2 separate regions of the Homo sapiens genome follow, and region 1 is linked to region 2. Evidence: fine-mapped expression QTL. A gene starts in region 2. The other region holds a variant in brackets. All regions are shown on one strand. Distances are from middle to middle.

Region 1 (9,902 bases), 21 kb before region 2:
GAGCCCGCTGCATCCTCCTGTGCTGCCAGGCACCTGTCTCTCAGGCCTCCTCATCTGAGTCCATCAGGAAAATGAGAATAATCCAGTCGAGGTAGTGGGACTGCCAGCTGGGGTCCCTGCAGGCCCTAGCCTGATCCCTGCTCTGACTAGCACGGGCTCCAGTGGGGAGCTGCACCCTGCCTCCTCAAGGAAAAATCCAGCCAGGGAGCAGCCCTGCCCTCCCTCCCTAGGGACTTTGTTTAGACCAAATTGGTAGGAGGGTGGGGAAGGTGGACAAAATGTGGCAGGCCCTCCCCTCCCCAAGCAAAGCCCCAACTCCCGGGCTCTGGGCAGACTAGCCGTGGGGTCCTAGAGAGCGCCTGCCCGCCTGCCCCTCTTCCTGCCTGAGCCCTGGACCTTTATTTCATGCCCAAGTGGCTGTGAGAGTGACAGGAGGTCCAGGCCCTGTCCCTAGGGAAATATCTCCTTACAAGGGTCTGGGGCGGGAGTGACAGTCCTGTCTGCCCTGTTACCCCCTCCACCACATGGCCTTCTCTCAGCTTATAGAGTTAGTTGCAGCCTCCCTAAGGGCAGGCAGGCCACCAAGAAAGGTTCAGAAATGCTTGCTGAGTGAATTGCTGAGTGGACAGGGTGCAGCCAGGAGTGGAGAAGCTCAGTGTCTCTCATTCATGCCTGGGAAAGTTCTCTGCCCAAGGCCACTGGGTGGGCCTGGCATGATGACAGGTACAGACTGGGGGCCTGGCCTGGGCATTGCTCCCAAATGCGCTCACTTCTGCACTCTCCGGCCTCCGGGCCTCTGCTCATGCTGGAGCACCCACTCCACCCCCACCCCAGTACTGCCTGTACCCACCTCCTTCACAAACGCCAGTTCCTCTATCAAGAGTCCCTGGCTAGAGCCTTCACAACTGCTCCGCTCCCAGGGTTTCTACTCAAGGGCAGTCCTCGTCTCAGTCACCTTGGAGCTTTCACTGCTTGGAATGGGACTTGACACCCAGTCATTGCTCAGCTAATCTTTGTCCACTAAGGACAAACAAGAAACACCCAAATGGCACTCGCCATGTACCAGGCACTGTTCTAAGTGCTTTATATGTGGTAACTTGTTTACTCCTCACAACCATCCTATGAGGTAGGTGTTTGTATCACTCCCATTTTGCAGATGAAGACACTGAGGCAAAGGGCAGTCAAATGACACAGGAAAGCAAAAACTGGCTCCCTCCACCCTTCTAGGGTCTTTGACTGTGCTAGGAATTACATGGACAGATAAAGTGGTTAACAGGAGAAAAATCATATTTAATTACGTACATAGGCATGGGAGCCCCACAAAATATGCAATTTCAAGAAAGATCACATCTTGAGCTACAGAAAAGGAACTGGGGTCCAGGATAACCTTTGTACCTTAAAAAAAAAACCAAAAAAAAAAAAAAAAAAAAAACGGGCTGGGAGCTTCTGGTGGGTGATGGCAATGCAAGTTTGGGAGGGTGAGGGGAGGAACTGCATGGTGAGCAAAAGTTGTCTCGTTATGCAGATAAAAAGTCAGTCTCGGCCAGGCATGGTGGCTCATGCCTGTAATCTCAGCACTTTGGGAGGCTGAGGTGGGCGGATCACGAGGTCAGGAGATCGAGACCATCCTGGCTAACACAGTGAAACCCTGTCTCTACTAAAAATACAAAAAAATTAGCCGGGCGTGGTGGCAGGCACCTGTAGTCCCAGCTACTCGGGAGGCTGAGGCAGGAGAATGGCGTGAACCCGGGAAGCGGAGCTTGCAGTGAGCCGAGATTGCGCCACTGCACTCCAGCCTGGGTGACAGAGCGAGATTCCATCTCAAAAAAAAAAAAAAAGTCAGTCTCTCAGGTCTTAACAGTTGTCTGAGCAGCCCCAAGAATAATAGGCAGTTGTTGTCAATGAGTCAATCCTCCTTGGTAGGTAAGATTTCCAGGAGGGAGTTCAGGACAACTTAGGCAGATGAGGCAACTTCAGAGAAAGCCCTTCCTGCACTTGCTGTTGCTCAAGTGCCCCCAGTTTGAAGTAATCAGCACACCAAAATGGCAGATTTTGGGGTGGCATTTCCTGAACTCCTTCAGGGACACCCAAGGTCACCCAGTCAGTAAATGGCAAAGATCCAGCCTCAGCCCCCGTGGGGGCTGCGAGGCTGCCTCCTGGGGATGACGTTTCCTGGTGCAGCCAGATGGATGCCCGTGTCACTGCCAGGAGACACCTACTGGAATGGGCAGCTGCTCCCTAGGCCAAGCCCATCAGATGAAGTGCCACCATCCTCAGTGTGGCCTTTTCATCCTTTTCCACCCTCCTGGACTCGGGTCTTCTGCCCACTCTACCTGACACCAGTGGGTTTGATTTCCCTGAGTGCAGCAAATTTGGGCTCAGCAACTGTTTGTAGAATGACCACTCTGCTACAAGGACCCCAGAGACAGGCACAGTTTCTTCAAGACCCTGGGCGCCACTTTCCTCCCCCAAGCCTGTTTCCTGCTCTGGGAAATGAGCTGACTTGCTCATGTCACATGGCGTGATGTCTGGTAGGGACGCTGGGTTGCTTCTGAACCATGTCAACAGTCTATTTACCTGATTCTTGGCATGGCTGTGTGCCTGCTCCAGACGCCAGGTGACTTTGTCTGGGCAATGTGGGGTGGGGATGAGGTTACAGGCAGGTCGGGTGTGTGCTCCTTGTCCCTGGAGCAGTTTTTTTTTCTCTGGACCTGGGAGCAGCAAGGGACAAGGCTATAAGCTAGTGGAGCCAGGGAGCTGGGATGCAGTGGCGCGTTCTGCCACCTGACAGTGGGTGGGGGACACTTGTCAAAGCCTTTTTTGCTGCAGTCAGAGCGTGCATCCCACCTCCTCTGGCTCACGGCCAAGCCACACAGGGAGGGCAGGGGGGATGAGGTGGGTGAATGGGGGTGCCTGCAACGCCTCTGCCAACCGCAGCTAACAAGTGGCGGCTTGCACACCAGGGCAGGCAGTGGTGACCCTGGGCAGGGGCAGCCAATGAGCTCCCGGGCCACGGTGGCACCACTGGGCAGCCCGCCTGTCTTTGGCTGGTGCAGCCGCGGGAGGGGCCTGGGTCCGCCAGTCAGGGCTGCCGGGCCCTGTCTCTGGGAGGCCTGGGCAGATCTGCCGCTCCATTCACAGGAGCCCGACCCGACTTGGGCTGCCACATTTTAAACTTTTTCAACCTCCTGGAGAGGAGGGCGGGCTGCGGGGGCGGTTTGGGGGAGGATGGTGGGAAGGACGATGGAAACAAACTCGCAACACTTTTCCCAGGATCTGGCTCCTGAGTGGGATCGAGCTCCAGGCTGGGGCCGGGAATTTCGAATGCTCTGCGGGCACATGGCAGGCCTGAGGGTGTGGGGGGGAGGGATTGGGAGAGGGAAAAGCAGAGGGTGATGGTCGTGGCCCAGATGCCCAGCCAGGACTGGCGCTGGGGACCCCAGGGACCCAGACTGCTCAGGTCCTGCAGCCCCCCAGTCACCTGAGCACCCCTCTGCCTGGATGGAGTTAGTTCTGGAACAGCATGTGTGGCTTAAGTGGCTGTTAGCCAGGGCCAGGGGTCGGGGGAAATTCAGGCTCATCATCTAGAGCTCCTTGTGGCACAGGCTGGACAGTGTCAGCAGCAGCAGGGGCTTGTGCCCCCTCCCCCCCACCCCTTAGGCCTCCCTGCTCAATGCAGACCCACCACGGCCAGTCACATAATAAACATATATTAACAGATGTACAATTTGAGAATTCTAATTCAAGAAATACAGCTTCCAGAGGATCCTTTAGGATCTATGTTCTTATTGCACATGGCTCAGCCCGTCTAGGGACATCTACCAAGACCAGATGGTCGGGGCGTGGGGGCAGAGCACCGGGGCCACAGTGGGTAGGCACTCTGGCCACATCAGTTCTTATAATCTCTCTGGGCTGAAGTGGCTGCTTCATTGCAGGGTTGGACCTTGTTTAAAAACCAGATTTGACATTTCCTTACCGAACTTCCTTTCCCAGCAAGAATCCTATTTGTTGGGGGACTTTTAAAAAAAGAGCCGAGAGAAACTCTGGGAGGGTGGTTATCACCTCCTGGCTGGCAGCTTGGGGAAGTAAGGCTTTGGAAGACGGCGGGCGCAATGACACACCCACCGCCACAGGAAAACATGGTCATTCCAGAAGGCCCAGGAGAAACTGTGGGAATAAATAAAACCTCCCTCCTCCCACTGGCGGCAAGTGCTGTTTTAAGCAAAATCCTCATTTCAATGTGAGGGTAAGAAAACTATTCTGGTTCAGGTGTATCCTTTGTCCAAGGTACGAGAGGAGGCCTGGCGGTCACATCAACAGCGAGTGAAGACAGAGGCAGCCACGGGCACTGCCTTTTCTTCAGGAGTCGAGGAGGCTGCCCTGGGGTCCCGGCAC[CACTG/C]ACTGACTCGGAGGAAGAACTTTCTGAAGTCCTTGGTGCATGACTTAGGAAAAACCAGTGGCAATGATGGAGCTGTGCCCTGTGGCACCTATAAGGCAAAGCCCACTGAGGGACTTAGGGGTGGGGAAATGGTTAGGTAGATCCTGGCCCCCTCTGCAGGCCTTCCCTTCTGTGGGCAGGGGGCTGGAGGGCTCCTGGGCACCAGGACAAAGAGCCCACCAGCGCTGCTGAGAGGGGAGAGGTGGTCTCACCCAAGCAGGTCCTTGTGGGGCCTCTACTGTGACTCAATACTGACCTGGCACCTGCCTCCATGGCCTGCTCCTCTCCAGGTTAACCATAATCCTGAGGCCTTCGCGGGTTCACACTATCATGATTACTGCTGCCATCAAAACCAGGCTGGGGTTTCGGGGGGCTGTGAAAAGCTCTGATGCGACTCTCCTTATGCTGTCAGCTACAGCTAATGTCTAGCAAAAACATCACCAGGGTACCTTCCCCAAACAGGCCTCATTTTCTAAAACATGGAAGAAATCAGCTCAACAACTTAACCAAATCCCTGCAGAGTTTAAAAAGTAGACTATATATATATATATCTTCATATATGCCTATTTACATATAAATAGATATATATACATATACACGCATCTATAAATTACATTCTATGGAGAGTTCTCTTTCTTCCTCCTATCTTTGGCCAGGGCCTCTGGCTTCTCCTGAGAGGTGGCTGGTGGTGGCTCCTGTGAGGGAGGAAAGGCAGCTGGGTGCCCCCTCCCCCAGCCCTTCCCACTGATATCTGCTGCGAGTTTTACATTCTACTTTCGTTGCCATGGTTTCTGTATCCTAGGAGAGAGGCGATGCGGAGCCTCCGCCAGCCCTGCGAGGGAGGGAAGCAGCCCCATGGCAGGTTTTCTGTCTGTCCTAAGAGCTTTCTGCATTTACTGGGTGAGAGAGAGGGCAGCTGTGCAGCGTTCGGCCTCCAATTCCATTTTAATTTTGTTTCTTTGTTTGTCTTTCCTCAAATATACAGTCCATCACCTTGGCTCAGTGCATGTCACCAAAAATTCTCCAGGGATTTCATAGTCTGGGGAGGAGAGTGGCAACAGTTAGCTCGGCATTCAGGCGGCACCGGCTCCTCTAGCTTATGCCACACAAGTAGCCCCCCTTGCCACTGCACCGCTGCACCGTGCTGCCCGCTCGACCCCCACCAACCCCACTTGCGGCCTGCCCTCCTGCGGCAGCACAGAGGCAGGCACAAATGGCCTCCAGGCAGAGTCAGCCATGGATCCAGGCCGGGAGGACACAGGCAAAGGAGGGGGTGGGCAGGGCACCCACACAGAGAAGAACCTTCACTGCTTCTGCCCACACTTCTCTGGGCTTGGCTGAAGTGGCCACCTCTGGCAAACGCTGGGAACAGAGCCCAGCGCCCCCATTCGCCGGGCTGCAGAAGGAGGGAGCCTGCTACCAGCAACTCTCATTTCCCCTCCACCCCTCCTGTGCTGAGCGGCTGCGTCTGACCCTGAACTCATGACCTTCTGTTCCCTTCCTCAGACCGCAGGCGAGATGCCTGGGCAAGGCCGGATGCCTGTGGCTTCCAGGCTGCCAGGTGTGACGGCATTCGAGAGAGTGCCTCAGATCCCACCAGAGGGGGGTGGTCAGGGCCCGCGGCCCCTGCCGCCACCAAGACTGCCAGCTCCCACCCACCTCGTGGCTGCCTGTTCATCTTGCTCCATTTCCTCCTAGCTGGAGGGATGGAGAAAGGGGAGGGCTCTTGGCCCACCTATTCCCACATGGTTCTTCCTGGTATCAGGCAGGCAGTGTGCATATGGGGCTCTCTTGGGCCCCACCATATGTGATGGCCTAAATACCAGGGCACGGACAATAGTCTGCTGTGCTGGAGAAAGGGCCGTGCTGACTGATGGCTGGAGTGGACCAAGAAGCCCCGGGTGGCCCTCAGCAACAGTTTCAAGTTCCCACTCTGCCTGGTTCTGGGGTCCCCCACACCCCTGGAGCCAGGGAGCAGAGCGGAGGAGTGGGGAGGACAGCATCGCTAGAGGGCGGAAACCGACCTTGGTTTCCCAGCAGGCCCCACAGCTGCTCGGTCTCTGGAGGCTGGAGGTCAGGCTGGGGACAGGAGTCTTTGCCACAATCACCAGGCTTCCTCCCTTTCTCCCCCTCCCTCCTCTGCTCATGACCAGGGCCAAAGCTGCCAGGAGTTGCAGGGTGGAGGCAGCCCTGGCTCATACTTGGACCTCGGTGGTGTGGCTGGCCCAGGACTATCCATGCAGGGAGGCCTGCACCTCTGACAGTCGGCTGCAGCTGGGGGTGCCCATCTTCTGTGCTCTGTGGTACATATCTGTGTCGCCAAAGTAGCGTGCCCGGTACAGCAAGCCTTCCTCTGCAAAGCAATGGGACAGGGTTAGTGCACACCCAGTACCTCCCGAAGCCTGCAAGGAAGCCTGCGAGGGCTGTGGAGGGCGGAGGAAAGCTGGTACATGCCCGGGGCTTGGGCAGGGCTGGCCTCCCATTAGGAAGACCATGGAGGAGCAGAGACTACAGTCCTTATGTGGGCGAGGGTGACAGAGGCGCCTTTCTCTAGAATGCAGTGAGGCCAGCCAAGGTGAGACCCTGTCATCCTGGTCAGGCCTCCCCAGGGTCCCACAGACAGATCCAGGAGCACAGTCAGGGGGTGGCCAGGGATCCATCCGCTCCAGTCCATCTCTACACACTCACCTCTGGCAGCCAACATGCTGGGCTGATGGCAGTGATTTACGGGAACCTGAGGAAACTACCAGGTGGCCCCTGGCTCCCAGCCCCGGAGAAACACAGGAGTGGAGACCAGCTCTTGTCTGGGAGGTGGCTGGTGCAGGGCAGTGCCAGGGGCTGGGCCCTCAGAGCACAGGGTGAGCAGGGCTCTCTCCTTCCCCTGCTTTCCAGCTTCATCCCAAGCCACCTCCCAAATACAGCCCCCGCCTTCCCCCCACACTCACTCTGCTGCTTCTCCTTCCAGCAGTTGTTCCGGAGGTTGGCGATATAATCATCTTCCACATTCCGCTCGACTGTTTTGAGGCTGGAGCCTGTGTACTCTTCGGAGAAAGTGTCTCCCACATAGTAGACGACACCCAGGTGGTCAGTGACTCGCCTGTGGATGTGGCCCACGGACCTGGCCAGAAATACCAGGTTCAAAGTGGGTGCGGGTCCCCATGCCCAGGGCACTCTAGGGGTATGGGCCCCAAGACAGGAGGTGCCGCACAGACCAGAGGAGTAGTTGGTTCCCTCTCAAACCAGAGCAGGGACCCGCACACTCCCTGAAAGGAGAGTCTGAGGAAAAGGCAGCGTCCTCCCACACACGTGGCCCAGACCGCAGGACGCCCTGCCTTTAGATCCCTGCTTACCACACTGCTGACCTGGGGCCTTTGGGGAGAGGCCTGGTCTAGGGAACTGGAGACCTGAGAGGGAATCTGGGCTCTGCCTCTGTGCCTCCATCTCCCCATTCATCCCCTAAGCCAATTGTTGCTGAGTGCTTGCCTGCCTATCTAGGAGTTCCCAGTGTAGGGTTAAGAGGCTTAGGAACAAAATGACAGGAAGGGCTCCAGGGAGCCTTATCCTCCCAGCTCCAATCACAGGCTCTGTCAGCTGTGGGAAGAGCCTTGACACCCAGACAGGACCAGTGCTCTGGGGACAACAGTCCCTGCCCTAGTCCTCTGCTCCTCACATCTCTCCAGTTGCAGGGAAAAGGGCTGGCATCTGGCCACAGGGAGCCTGAGCCGGCGGCCAGGGTCCAGTGGACCGACTCTGCCCCCTGCTGGCTGAGAAGGGTCCTGCCAGCTCCCAGCCAGAGGTGGCCACCTTTTGGGAGAGGGGGACCCACCCCACTGAAGATGTGCACCCACTGTGTAGCTGACCCTGGGCCAGGTGCTGGACATCAGTGAGGGGAGCTGACCCCCTAACGGCTCATGAAATGTCCTCAAGTTCACTCCTGGCAGTCGAGACTAAGCATTCATTAAACTAATATTGTTGAGCATTTCTAGTGGGCCAGACATTTTATATGCATTACTCATTAATTTCCACAGCAGGTGGATGTTATAATTCCCATTTTATAGATGAGGAAACCAAGGTTATATAACTTGTTTAGGGTCACACAGCTTCTTAGTGGAGAAGCTGGGATTCTAAGCCATGCTTGCTCTGTCTGACTCTAGTGCCCTGTTCTTTCCACAGCCTCAGGAAGCCCAACCAGAGCCGAGGAGCAGAGGTTCTTCGTCAGGGTTGGCAGGGGAGATGGGCAGGGAAGAGTCACAAAGCCGCCGAAATTATATGCAAAACTCTGTGTGTATATGTGTGCGTGTATGTGTGCATGTGTATTATGTGTGTGCATGTATTGTGTGTGTGTGTACATGTGTATCGTGTGTGTGTATGTGTGTGTGCACATGTGTGCATAGTTTTAGGGAAAAGTTCTGTAGCTCTCGCTGCAATTTCTTAGGGGACCATAATCCTAAAAAGCTTAAGAGTCCTAGTTGAATAGAGAAAGTATATTTTCTTGATTCGAAGCCAGGTTTCTGCATTATGATCGCACACTGGCTGGATCAGGATGGGAAAGAAGGCCCCTGATGGGGCTGAGAATTTAAAGCCCCTTGTCTGCCCATGGCCCGGCCTCACCCATGTACTCACGGTCTTGGACTCAGACTGTAGGGTGGACTGGAGACCATGAGCTGGCTGAGAGCTGACACGAGAATCAGGATGAGGATAGGCATCAGCTGCACAAACACCCCTAGCCCGCCCTGGAGGGAAGAGCCAATGTCACTCTGCTGGACCTGGGTGGGGTGTGGTGTCAGCCATAATCACCACTAGCTCCCCTAGAATAGTGGAGCCTGGGGAGACATGACACCACTCTGCCGTTCCCTCCACGAGGCTCCAAAACACAGACGCTCCTTCACCTGCCAGCTTTCCCAGATAAAAACAAAGCAGCAACTGGTGTGAAATACAGGAGGAAGTGAGGTGTCTGCATTTACTTTTGACAGAATGCCAAAAAAAAAAAAAAATCAGCAAAAGTTGCTTCCTCCAGGAGAATGGAAGGCAGGGCTGGAAGGAGACATGCAGTATATACAAGTTTTTGAGATGTGAACCACACAAATATATTACCAATTTAAACATTATGGCCAGTGTGGCGGCTCATGCCTGTAATCCCAACACTTTGGGAGACCAACATGAGAGGAACACGTGAGGCCAGGAGTTCAAGACCAGTCTGGCCAACATACACCCCCATCTCTACAAAAAATAATAATTAAAACAAAATAAAAATTAGAAATAGCACTGGTTCTAGGGTGCAGAAAAAGCAAACAAACAAAAAAAGAAGAATTAGAAATAAAAATTAACAAATATATTCACTGTGTGATAATCTGTGATGTTAAACTCTTCTGTTGTTAGATACAAAATAAAAAAATTTTGATCAGGGGCAATGGCTCATGCCTGTAATCCCAGCACTGTGGGAGGCTGAGGCAGGAGGACCACT
Region 2 (9,902 bases):
CTCTCTTGTACCTCTCAGAGAAGATTCTGGAAGCTTTTCAGGGCAGTTACAGGGAATCAGCCACTCTAATTTCCCTACAGTACAGAAAGAGAGCCCAAAGGAGAATGGGGGTGCCCTGGGTCACATAGAAGCTTTCTGCTTGAGTTGGAAATTAAAGATTTCCAGTTGCTGGCAAGTAGGGTCTCTCTTCTGGCCTGGGGGATGTGACAGCTTCATGCTTACATCCCTCATGGCACAGAGGCTGACAGGCAATGTCACAAAAAGAGACAGAACAGCTTAATGTTACCTTCTCAGTAAAGCTGGCAGACTTAGAAAAGGAAGGGAATTCGATAGAAGAGAACAGAGCTGCGGTGGAGAGGCACCTGAGGTAGAGCTGAGAGGATTTCTATGGCCAAAGCCACTGAACCCAGACTAGAGTTAGATTTGGCCGGGCAGTGGCTCACACCTGTCATCTCAGCACTTTAGGAGGCCAAGGCAGGAGAATGGATTGAGCTCAGGAGTTCGAGACCAGCCTTGGCAACACAGGAAGACCCTGTCTCTACGAAAATAAAAAAATTAGCCAGGTGTGGTGGCACATGCCTGTGGTCCCGGCTGTTTGGTAGGCTAAGGTGGGAGGATCACTTGGGCCTGGGTGGTTGAGGCTGCAGTGAGCTGTGATTGTGCCACTGCACTCCAGCCTGGGCAACAGAGTGAGACCCTGTCTCAAAAAAAAAAAAAAAAAAAAAAAAAAAAAGACTGCCCGATGGGTTCAAACCTAGCTCTGCCATTTGCTAGAAGGGTCATCTTGGACAAGGTAACTTAGCTCATCTGTGCAAAACTCTATCTCCATCATACAGGCTAAAAGAGGAAATGAGTGAATGCCAGCAAAAAACTCAGCCCAATGCCCAGCAAATATACAGTGTTGTCTCTGACCGTGACTTTGTTAGTAAGTGAGTAGCTGAGTTTCTGGGCTCTGTGTACCTACGGTGCTCACAGTGAGTCAGAAAAGGGCCTGGGATTGGAGATGGACAGCTCTGGGTCTTTGCTGGCTAGCCATGTGGCCTTGCCAGGTTAGCTGGTTCCTGAGTGGAGAGACGATCTCTGCTCTCATAGGAGTGCTCTGAGGGGTAAATAAGATTCTGTGAAATACAGTGAATGGAAGGGGGCTAAGTGCACAGTGGGGCTCATGAAGGTTGACTGACTTGAAGGGTACAACCCCACCCCGGACCTCGCCAGCACCAGAACATCTCTCACTCCTGGACTCTGAATGCAGAATCCCTCAGCAATCCGTCTCCTTTTCCTGTGGGCTGGCCTTCCCAGCTTGGCCTTCATGACTTAGCCCAGAGTCAACCATTTCACAGAACATTGGATAGCCTGAGCTGCAAGGAACCTCAGGATCATCCCAGCCAATCCTCTCTTTGTATGCTGGGGAAACTGAGGCCTACAAATGCTCTCGTGAGCTCCCTGGGAAATCTGGCACCTTCCACATTTGTTACAAAGCCTGAGTCAAAGCCAATGGCTTACCAGGCTGCCAGCTACTGGACAGAAACTCCCAGAAAGGGACTGACTGGCTCCACCATCTCTAGTCTGTGACCTCCCAGCTTAGGGCCCAGCTACTGCTTTGCAGTTTAACTCAGTGCCTCCTTGTCCCACCTCCTGCAGCAGGAGTTTCAAGCCCCCTCACATCCCTTTTTGCTGCAAAGGCCAACAGTGTGAGGTCCCTCATCCTTTCAAGGTTGCTCTGAGCCTCCCCTCTCTCGTGACTCTCCCCTCTCTGCCCTTCCACCTCTCCAAGACCATCCTCTGCCCATGCTCTCGATCCTTCCCTTTTCAACTCTTAACTTGTCCTTTTCCCATGCAGTGCCTGCGGCATCACACAGGGCTGCTCACCACCTGCTGCCATTACCTCTCCATGGCTACCTGGCCGCTGCCCTCTCCGGGGACTGCCTTTTCCTGTTGCTCCATCTCAATCTGTTGCTTCCTCTGCCTTTGCCTGTGGGCTCAGGGCAGGTGTTGCCTGCCATTGTGCCTGCAGCAACTTTCTCTCCATGGTCTATACTTTCCCACAGTGACCTCAGCCATGCACAACTCCAGTGAGCTCCAGGGAACAGACGATACCACACTTTCACCTGTAACCTGGAGCGCTCTCCTGAGTTCCAGGCTGACAGCTCCTTTGGACTATCCCACTGGCACCTCCCACTCTGCTCATCTCTTCCCATCTCAGTTCTTCAGCCTGGTTTCTTCCTGGTCACAGGGGCTTCAATTCTGATTCCCCAGCATCCCATCTGATTCTCCTCTGCACCTCTCTCTCACACAGGCCTGGTGCCTCTTTTCCAGGGACCTTAGCCTTATCCATGACTGCCTTGTCCCAGGCCCTCAGAATATCCAACCAGCTCAAGGCAATTCTCTCCTATTGGCTTCCTGCCCTGAAGCTCTCTTCCCTCTCATTAACCTTTCATGCTGTTCTCTTTTAACAACAGTGCCCGTACTTTATTCCTGCTATCAAAAACCTCAATGGTTTCCTCACTAACTACAGAATAAGGTGAAAATATCTTGGCCTGGTAGAAAAGGATTTCTATGATCTGGCCCCATTTTATTTCCCAAACTTAATCCTCTCTGTATACGAATTACCACCTCCACTGCCTCTAAATCTTGCTACACTTTGATCTCTTCCCCCAAACGTTACAACTTTCAGCTCCTTTGTCTTCTTCCAGGATGCCTTTCCTCAAGTCTCACACCGTCCTCCAAAGCACAATTCAAATGTTAACTCCTGTCATCCCCAAAGCATTCCCTCACTGTGAGATAACATTATTTTTATGCACTTGCTACAGCACTCACTAAACTGCTGATAATTTAATGTTCAGGAGATTGTCCTCCGCACCTCCTCCCCACCATCAGACTGTGAACCCATGGATGATGGGGCCTGATTTTTTCATGCCTGTCCTTAAGTCCTCAGCGTCTAACCTTGGGTTTATTTTTTGTTTAATTACAGTTCTGTCTTGTAATATTTGTTTCTGTAAGTTTTGTCTCTTTCACTAGATTATAAGCTCTTTTGAGGTGAGGGATCACATTTTACCAATCTTGCTAGCACCAAGCAGAGGACTTTGCAAACAAAACATAAATGATCTTCAACAAAAGTCTGCTGCATTGAATGAGCATCTGGGATGAGCCTAAACCCAAAGCAATAGACCGCCACCTAATATATCTGTATTACTCCCCCTGGGGAGGCAGGTAGCCAGCCCAGTGGGTAGCCCTGCCCTCTATTTTTGAAGTAAGATCTTTCCCTGTCCCAGACCTAAACTAATCCCAGGTCTTTGTCAGCTCAGTGGAGGGCTGCAGATGGTAAAGTTTACACGGATGCATAAGGCGTATAGTCTCATAGTCTTTCCAGAAAAGCACAAATATGACAAATATGCATGCAGGTGGTTCTTCTGTCTCAGCAAATTCCAGAGCCTGAGCCCCAGAGAGGACACTCCTTCAAGCTCCTGAACTGGTGCAGGGGCCTGCTGACAGAAAGATCCCCAGAGGCCCTGTGGCCCATCCTTTCTTGGCTGCCTGCTCCTGAGCCCGCAGCAGCATCAGTGTCAGGCAGAATTCTGACAGCTGGAGGATACCACCCCACCACAGAATATGAATTAATTCACAGGGAGGCTCCTCGAGCAGGTTACCTCAGGTGTCCTGGCAAATACAGCCCGAAACCCTCTCCAAGGGGAGGCAAACAGGCCAAAGATCAACCTGCAAGAGTCCGGAGGGAGGAAAGTTCAGCAGTCCAGGCTACCTCTTCCACCAGCGTTCCGCTTTCTCAATCTCATCAGGCGGGCAGGGCCGGTTAGGAGGCTGACTGCTGTTCCTCAATTTCATTTCTTTTCCTTCATAAACATTTACAGAGTCACAGAACATTTTACTTTCTAGCTGTGTCATCCTGGGCATCCCTTACCTCAGAGATTTTCCTCACCCATAGAATAAAGATAATGATCTTTGCTCTGCATCCCTGACTGGCAGGCTCAAGTGAGAAGGCACAGGTGAAGGAGCTTCCTAAACTGCAAAGCCCTATGGGTATTATTGCCAATCACATTATCTGCGCCAACCCTCTAATCTTCCCGAGGAGGAAACCCAAGCTCAGGAAGGTCACGTGGTAGCCGTCAGGATGAGACTGGGCCCTTCGGAGTGCCTGTTATTCCCAGACGGTTTACTGAGTGGTGATCACAAGCACCACCCGGTGTCTCTCTCCCCTCTAGCGTGGATTAAGAAAAACTCCTTGGAAAACTTAGGTTAAAGAAAAAAGAAAGGGTTCCCGGGTGAAGCGAGGTGATGAGTTGTAAAGCCAGCTTCACTCTTCCCTCCCTGGCTCAGGAGGCTCCTGTCCAGGGCAACTCAGCAGCCTCGGCGTCCACATGGCTGACCGCCGCTGGACTCTTGCGGGCGATGGAGGACTGGCGGTGGCTGAGGTCAGCACCTCCCACCAGGCCACCCGCTCCGAATCTCATCATCGGGAGGAGTGAGGGGCCCGGCTTCAGGACAGTCCGAGGCGGCGGACTGGGGTGGGTGCAAAGGCCGGCTTGCATTTTGGGAGAGTGGTCCCTGACCCTCAGCCCGAGAGGTGAGAGGGAGTGAAGATACGGAAGCGCCTTTCCCTGGCGCCCGAAGAACAGAAATGTCTCCCTGTCTAGCGCCCATTCTCTCCCTTAAAGGAGTTATGTTTATTTTCCTGAACTGTAATATTTCCCAGGCCGGCGACTGGCCTGGGCTACCGAACGGCCCCTTGGGAAAAGTAGTTCGAGTTCACTTCCAGGTAAGTTCCCTTCGTCCCGGCTGCCAGCGCGTTTCATTCTCGGAGACCTCAAACCCCAGCGGGCTCCGCCAGCACCCCGAAAGCTGAAGTCCCGGCCGCCCGAGTCTCCAGACGGCTCGCATCCCGCAGAGGAACAAGAGGGAAAAACTACGCCTCCCAGCAGCCACCGCGCGCCTCAGTGCGCAGGCGTAGCCGCGCCTCGCCACCCCTCCCCCTCCCCCAACTGCTCCCGTCGGTCCGTTCCCGTGTTCCCCCCATCAGTTCTAATGTCCCCAGTCTCTCCGGCACCTCACACTCACCGCGAACTCGCGGCGTCGGATACAGCCGCTGTGCCTTCTCCAGGAAGCGGAGCGCCCGGTCGGGCTGGTTGCTCTGGATGGCCTTGAGGGCGATGCTGATACAGCGCTCAGCTTCATCCTTGTTGGATTCCATGGCGGAACCAGAACGCGGAACCAGGGAGGGGGAGGCCGGGCGAGCGAAGGGCTGCGCCACCCGCCGGCGCGTCGCGGGCAGCCGGGCGCGGAGTGATGACATCCACCCTCCGCCCCTCCTTTCCCGAGTTTTGAGCGAGGGTGGAAGTGCTACCGTATGTCTTCTAAGAAAGGGACGGCTGGTGTAGGTGTCAATAATGGTGCACGCCCAGATTCCATGTTCCGGAGGTCTTAGAGTTGAGTATGCGCCAACCCTCTAATCTTCCGGAGGAGGAAACCCAAGCTCAGGAAGGTCACGTGGTAGCCGTCGGGATGAGACTGGGGCCTTCGGAGTGCCTGTTATTCCCAGACGGTTTACTAAGTGGTGATCTATATACGTAATGTAACTACATACGTTTCAGACAAAGGTTATTTATTCACTGAACAGATATTGAGTGCCCACTGTTTGTGAGGCATGGTTTTATGATGGGGATACAGGGGTGAGCAAAACAAAGCTCCTGCTCTCATGGAGCTTACATTCCAGTGTGTGTAGGCTGGGGGAGCTCCAGATAGATTCAGATAGTGATAAAAGCTCTGAAGAAAAATTATGGAAAACACAGGGATAGAGAGTGGGAGGCGCTATTTTAAATAGCGCGATAAAAGAAACCTCTCAGAAGCTGTCATTAACAGGTACCAGAATTCAGGAACGATAACAGGTAGATGTGACTGTCTGGAGGAAGGGTGGTCAGGCCGAAGGAACAGCAAGTGCAAAGGCTCTGAAAAGGGAATTCTCTTGGTGAGTTATAACAGATCAGGAAGGCGAATACATTCTAGGGAGCGTAAAGATTCTACTACAGGCTGGGCGCGGTGGCTCACGCCTGTAATCCCAGCACTTTGAGAGGCCGAGGCGGGCGGATCACTTGAGGTCAGGAGTTCGAGACCAGCCTGACCAACATGGAGAAACCCCGTCTCTACTAAAAATACAAAATTAGCCGGGCATGGTGGCACATGGCCTGTAATCCCACCTACTCGGGAGGCTGAGGCGGGAGAATCGCTTGAACCTGGGAGGTGGAGGTTGCGGTGAGCCAAGATCACACCATTGCACTCCAGCCTGGGCAACAAGAGTGAAACGCCATCTAAAAAAAAAGAAGAAAAAAAAAAGATTCTACTACAGAGTGTAATCCAGTTCTATCATTATCCCGTTCTTCGAGGGCTATCACTCCAGTGAAAGCAATCTTGTGAAGGTTGCCAGTGACCTCCACGTTGCCGAATCCCCGAGTCATCTGTCAGCCCTTACATTGCTTGGCCTTTCAGGCAGGATTTGGTAAGATGCTACTACAGTAATCCGGATGAGAGTCAGGAAGCTACTATTATAATACAGGTGAAAATTAATGGTAACTTGGATAAGGGTGATGGCGGAGGTGGTGAGTAGTAGTAAAATTCTGGATATATTTTGAAGACAGAATGACGCAATGGATGTGGGCTGTGAGAGAAAGAAGATTCAAGGATGATTCCAATGTTTTTGGCTTGATAACTGGAAGAAGAGAATTTCTATTTACTAAAACAAGGAAATGGAAAAGACTACAAAAGCAGTTTGGTGGGGGAATATTAAGGGTTTGATTCAGTTTATGATGCTTTTTAGAATCAAGCAGAGATACAGACTAGGATGTTGTACATACGTAGGGTTTAGGCAAAAAGGACCTGGAAATATAACTTTGGGGCCAGGCACAGTGGCTCACTCCTATAATCCCAACATTTTGGGAGGCCAGGGGTGGGAGGATCACTTGAGGCAAGGAGTTTGAGACCAGCCTGGGCAACAGAGTGAGATCCCATCACTACAAAAAAATAAAAAATTAGCTGGGTGTGGTAGTACACGCCTGTAGTCCCAGCTACTCAGGAGGCTGAGGTGGGAGGATCACTTGAGCATGGGAGGTCAAGGCTGCAGTGAGCTGTGATATATATATATATATATATATATATATATATATATATATATATATATATATATATATATATGCACCAAGGAAGTGAGTGTAGATGGAGAAGAGCAGAGAAGTCTGATTACTGAGCCTCACGAAATCCCAACATTTAAAGATCTGGAAGAGGAAGAAAATCCAGTAAAGGAGAATGTGAAGAAGCAGGTTGTAAGGAAATGAGTAGGTCAGGTATGGTGGCTCATGCCTGTAATCCCAGCACTTGGGGAGGCTGAGGTGGGAGGCTCGCTTTAGCCCAGGAGTTCAAGACCAGCCTGGGCAACATAATGAGACCGCCCCCCCTCACGGTCTCTACAAACAGTTTTTTTAGAAAAGGAGGGAGGGGGGGTCAAACGTCATATCCTGTGGAGAGGCCAAGCAATGTGAGGCCTGAGAAATGACCAATGGATTTGGCAGTGTAGAGGGCAGTGTTGACTTTGACAAAATTGCTTTTATCTATTTCATTTTATTTTTTTGAGACAGGGTCTCACTGTTACCCAGACTGGAGTGCAGTGGCACAGTTATGGCTCACTGCAGCCTCAACTTTCTGGGCTCAAGCAATCCTCCCACCTCCGCCTCCTGAATAGCTGGGACTACAGGAGTGCTCCACCACACCTGGCTAGTTTTTTTTTTAAGTTTTTTTTTAGAGATGGGGTCTCACTGTGTTGCCTAGGCTGGTCTCAAACTTCTAGGCTCAAGTGATCCTCTCACCTCAACCTCCCAAAGTGCTGGGATTACAGGTGTGAGCCACTGTGCCTGACCATAAAATGGCTTTTAGTGTGTGGTAGGGGTGAAAACCCAACAGGAATGGATTCAAGAGAGTAAAGGTGGCTGGGCGCAGTGGCTCAAACCTGTAATCTCAGCACTTTGGGAGGGTGAGGTGGGTGGATCACCTGAGGTCAGGAGTTCAAGACCAGCCTGGCCAACATGGTGAAACCCTATCTCTACTAAAAAAAATTACAAAAATTAGCCAGGTGTGGTGGCATGCGCCTGTACTCCCAGCTACCCAGGAGGATTATGAGCCTGGGAGGTCGAGGCTGCAGGGAGCCATGGTTGCCCCACTACACTCTAGCCTGGGCACAGAGTCAGACCCTGTCTCAATAAATAAATACACACATAAGAAAGAAGCAAGGTCATGGCCTCCTCAGCTATACATGCTCCTTGGAAAATTCTTTCACATCCAACCTTCCTTTCCATTCCCATTTTTCCCTTTCCAATGCAAACCCTTACGACTCCATGCTGGCCTGGTACAGACCCTCCTTGATAAGACAGTCCTACACTTGGAGAAATTTAAGTTCTCTACAAATTGATAGGTCCCTAATGTGTCCATGGATAAATGCTGGGATCCTTTTCAAACAGCCTCTCTGAGGTTTGTTGACCTAGCACGACAATTTCCATCTTCCTGTCTCCTGCTAAGAATCATGAAGTATCCTCTTCCATTTCCTATCATGAGGCCTGTCTTCTCCTGCTGACTACAAGATACAGTCATGTGTCACTTAATGACAGGGATATGTTCTGAGAAAAGTGTTGTTAGGTGATTTTATCACTGTGCGAACATCATAGAGTCCTTATACAAACCTAAGTTGGTATAGCCTGCTACACACCTAGGGTTTAAGGTATGACCTGTTGCTTCTAGGTTACATACCTGTACAGAACATTACCATACCGAATACAATGGGAAGTATTTGTGTATCTAAACATAGAAAAGGTAATGCATTGTGCTATGACCTTATGATGGCTATGAATGTCACTAGGCAATAGGACTTTTTCAGCTCCATTATAATCTTAAGGGACCATTGTCATATATGCTGTCTGTAGTTGGCCAAAATGTTATGATGTGGTGCATGACTCTACTTCACACTGTGAAGAAGGCAATCAAGTAGAAAAGAAAGTCTGTCATTTTCTTGTGTTAGGGAACTGGATTGTGACTGGCCAACTACTGACGGGTGAGCCCTTCTCTTTTCCTACAATTCATATAAAATGACAAAGTCCTATTTAAATTGTGGGTCAGTGCTTTGGCTTGATTGGCAGGGTCCAGATCAGTAACGATGTGGAGAAGCGGGCTGCTTGTGGTAGGGGCCCTTTATGCCTTATTTTTGCATTCTTCTCCTTGCCCCCCTCTGCTGCTCATCTTGGTCCCTAAGCTGTTTCTTTCTTTTTCTTTTTTTTTTTTTTTGAGACAAAGTCTTGCTCCATCGCCCAGGCTGGAGTGCAGTGGCGCGATCTTGGCTCACTGCAACCTCTGCCTCCCAGGTTCAAGCAATTCTCCTGTCTCAGCCTCCCGAGTAGCTGGGACTACAGCCACATGCCACCAAGCCTGGCTAATTTTTGTATTTTTAGTAGAGATGGGGTTTCACCTTGTTGGTCAGGCTGGTCTGGAACTCCTGACCTCAGGTGATCTGCCCGCCTCGGCCTCCCAAATTGCTGGGATTACAAGCATAAGCCACCGTGCCCGGCCACTGTTTCCTTTTGCTTTTTTTTTTTTTTTTTTTTTTGAGATGGATTCTCACTCTGTTGCCCAGACTGAAGTGCAGTGGCATGATCTCAGCTCACTGCAACCTCTGCCTCCCAGGTTCAAGCGATTCTCATGCCTCAGCCTCCTGAGTAGCTCAGATTATAGGCATGCATCTCCATGCCTGGATAATTTTTGTATTTTCACAAAATACAAAAAGTGGAGATTAACAAAATGCAAAAAGTAGGGGTTTTACCATGTTGGCCAGGCTGGTCTCGAACTCCTAACTTCCAGTA

What was found.
Region 1: its variant is fine-mapped to the expression of DNAJB12 in whole blood (TOPMed, PIP above 0.99).

Annotation. Positions count from the first base shown.
Region 1 is chr10:72,329,141-72,339,042 of GRCh38, forward strand. It overlaps DNAJB12 (DnaJ heat shock protein family (Hsp40) member B12), which reads right to left. Exons shown (of 9, transcript NM_017626.7): 6 at 9,062-9,171; 7 at 7,384-7,556; 8 at 6,640-6,791; 9 at 3,723-5,477. The coding sequence ends at 6,670. Among named protein-coding and RNA genes, the nearest start is that of DNAJB12, 21 kb to the right of the region's middle. RefSeq lists a silencer at 2,921-3,170 and enhancers at 5,677-6,086, 6,647-6,766. The variant CACTG/C (reference allele first, on the strand shown) is at 4,396.
Region 2 is chr10:72,349,695-72,359,596 of GRCh38, forward strand. It overlaps DNAJB12 (DnaJ heat shock protein family (Hsp40) member B12), which reads right to left and starts at 5,225. Exons shown (of 9, transcript NM_017626.7): 1 at 5,071-5,225. The coding sequence starts at 5,203. RefSeq lists enhancers at 4,682-4,811, 5,202-5,451.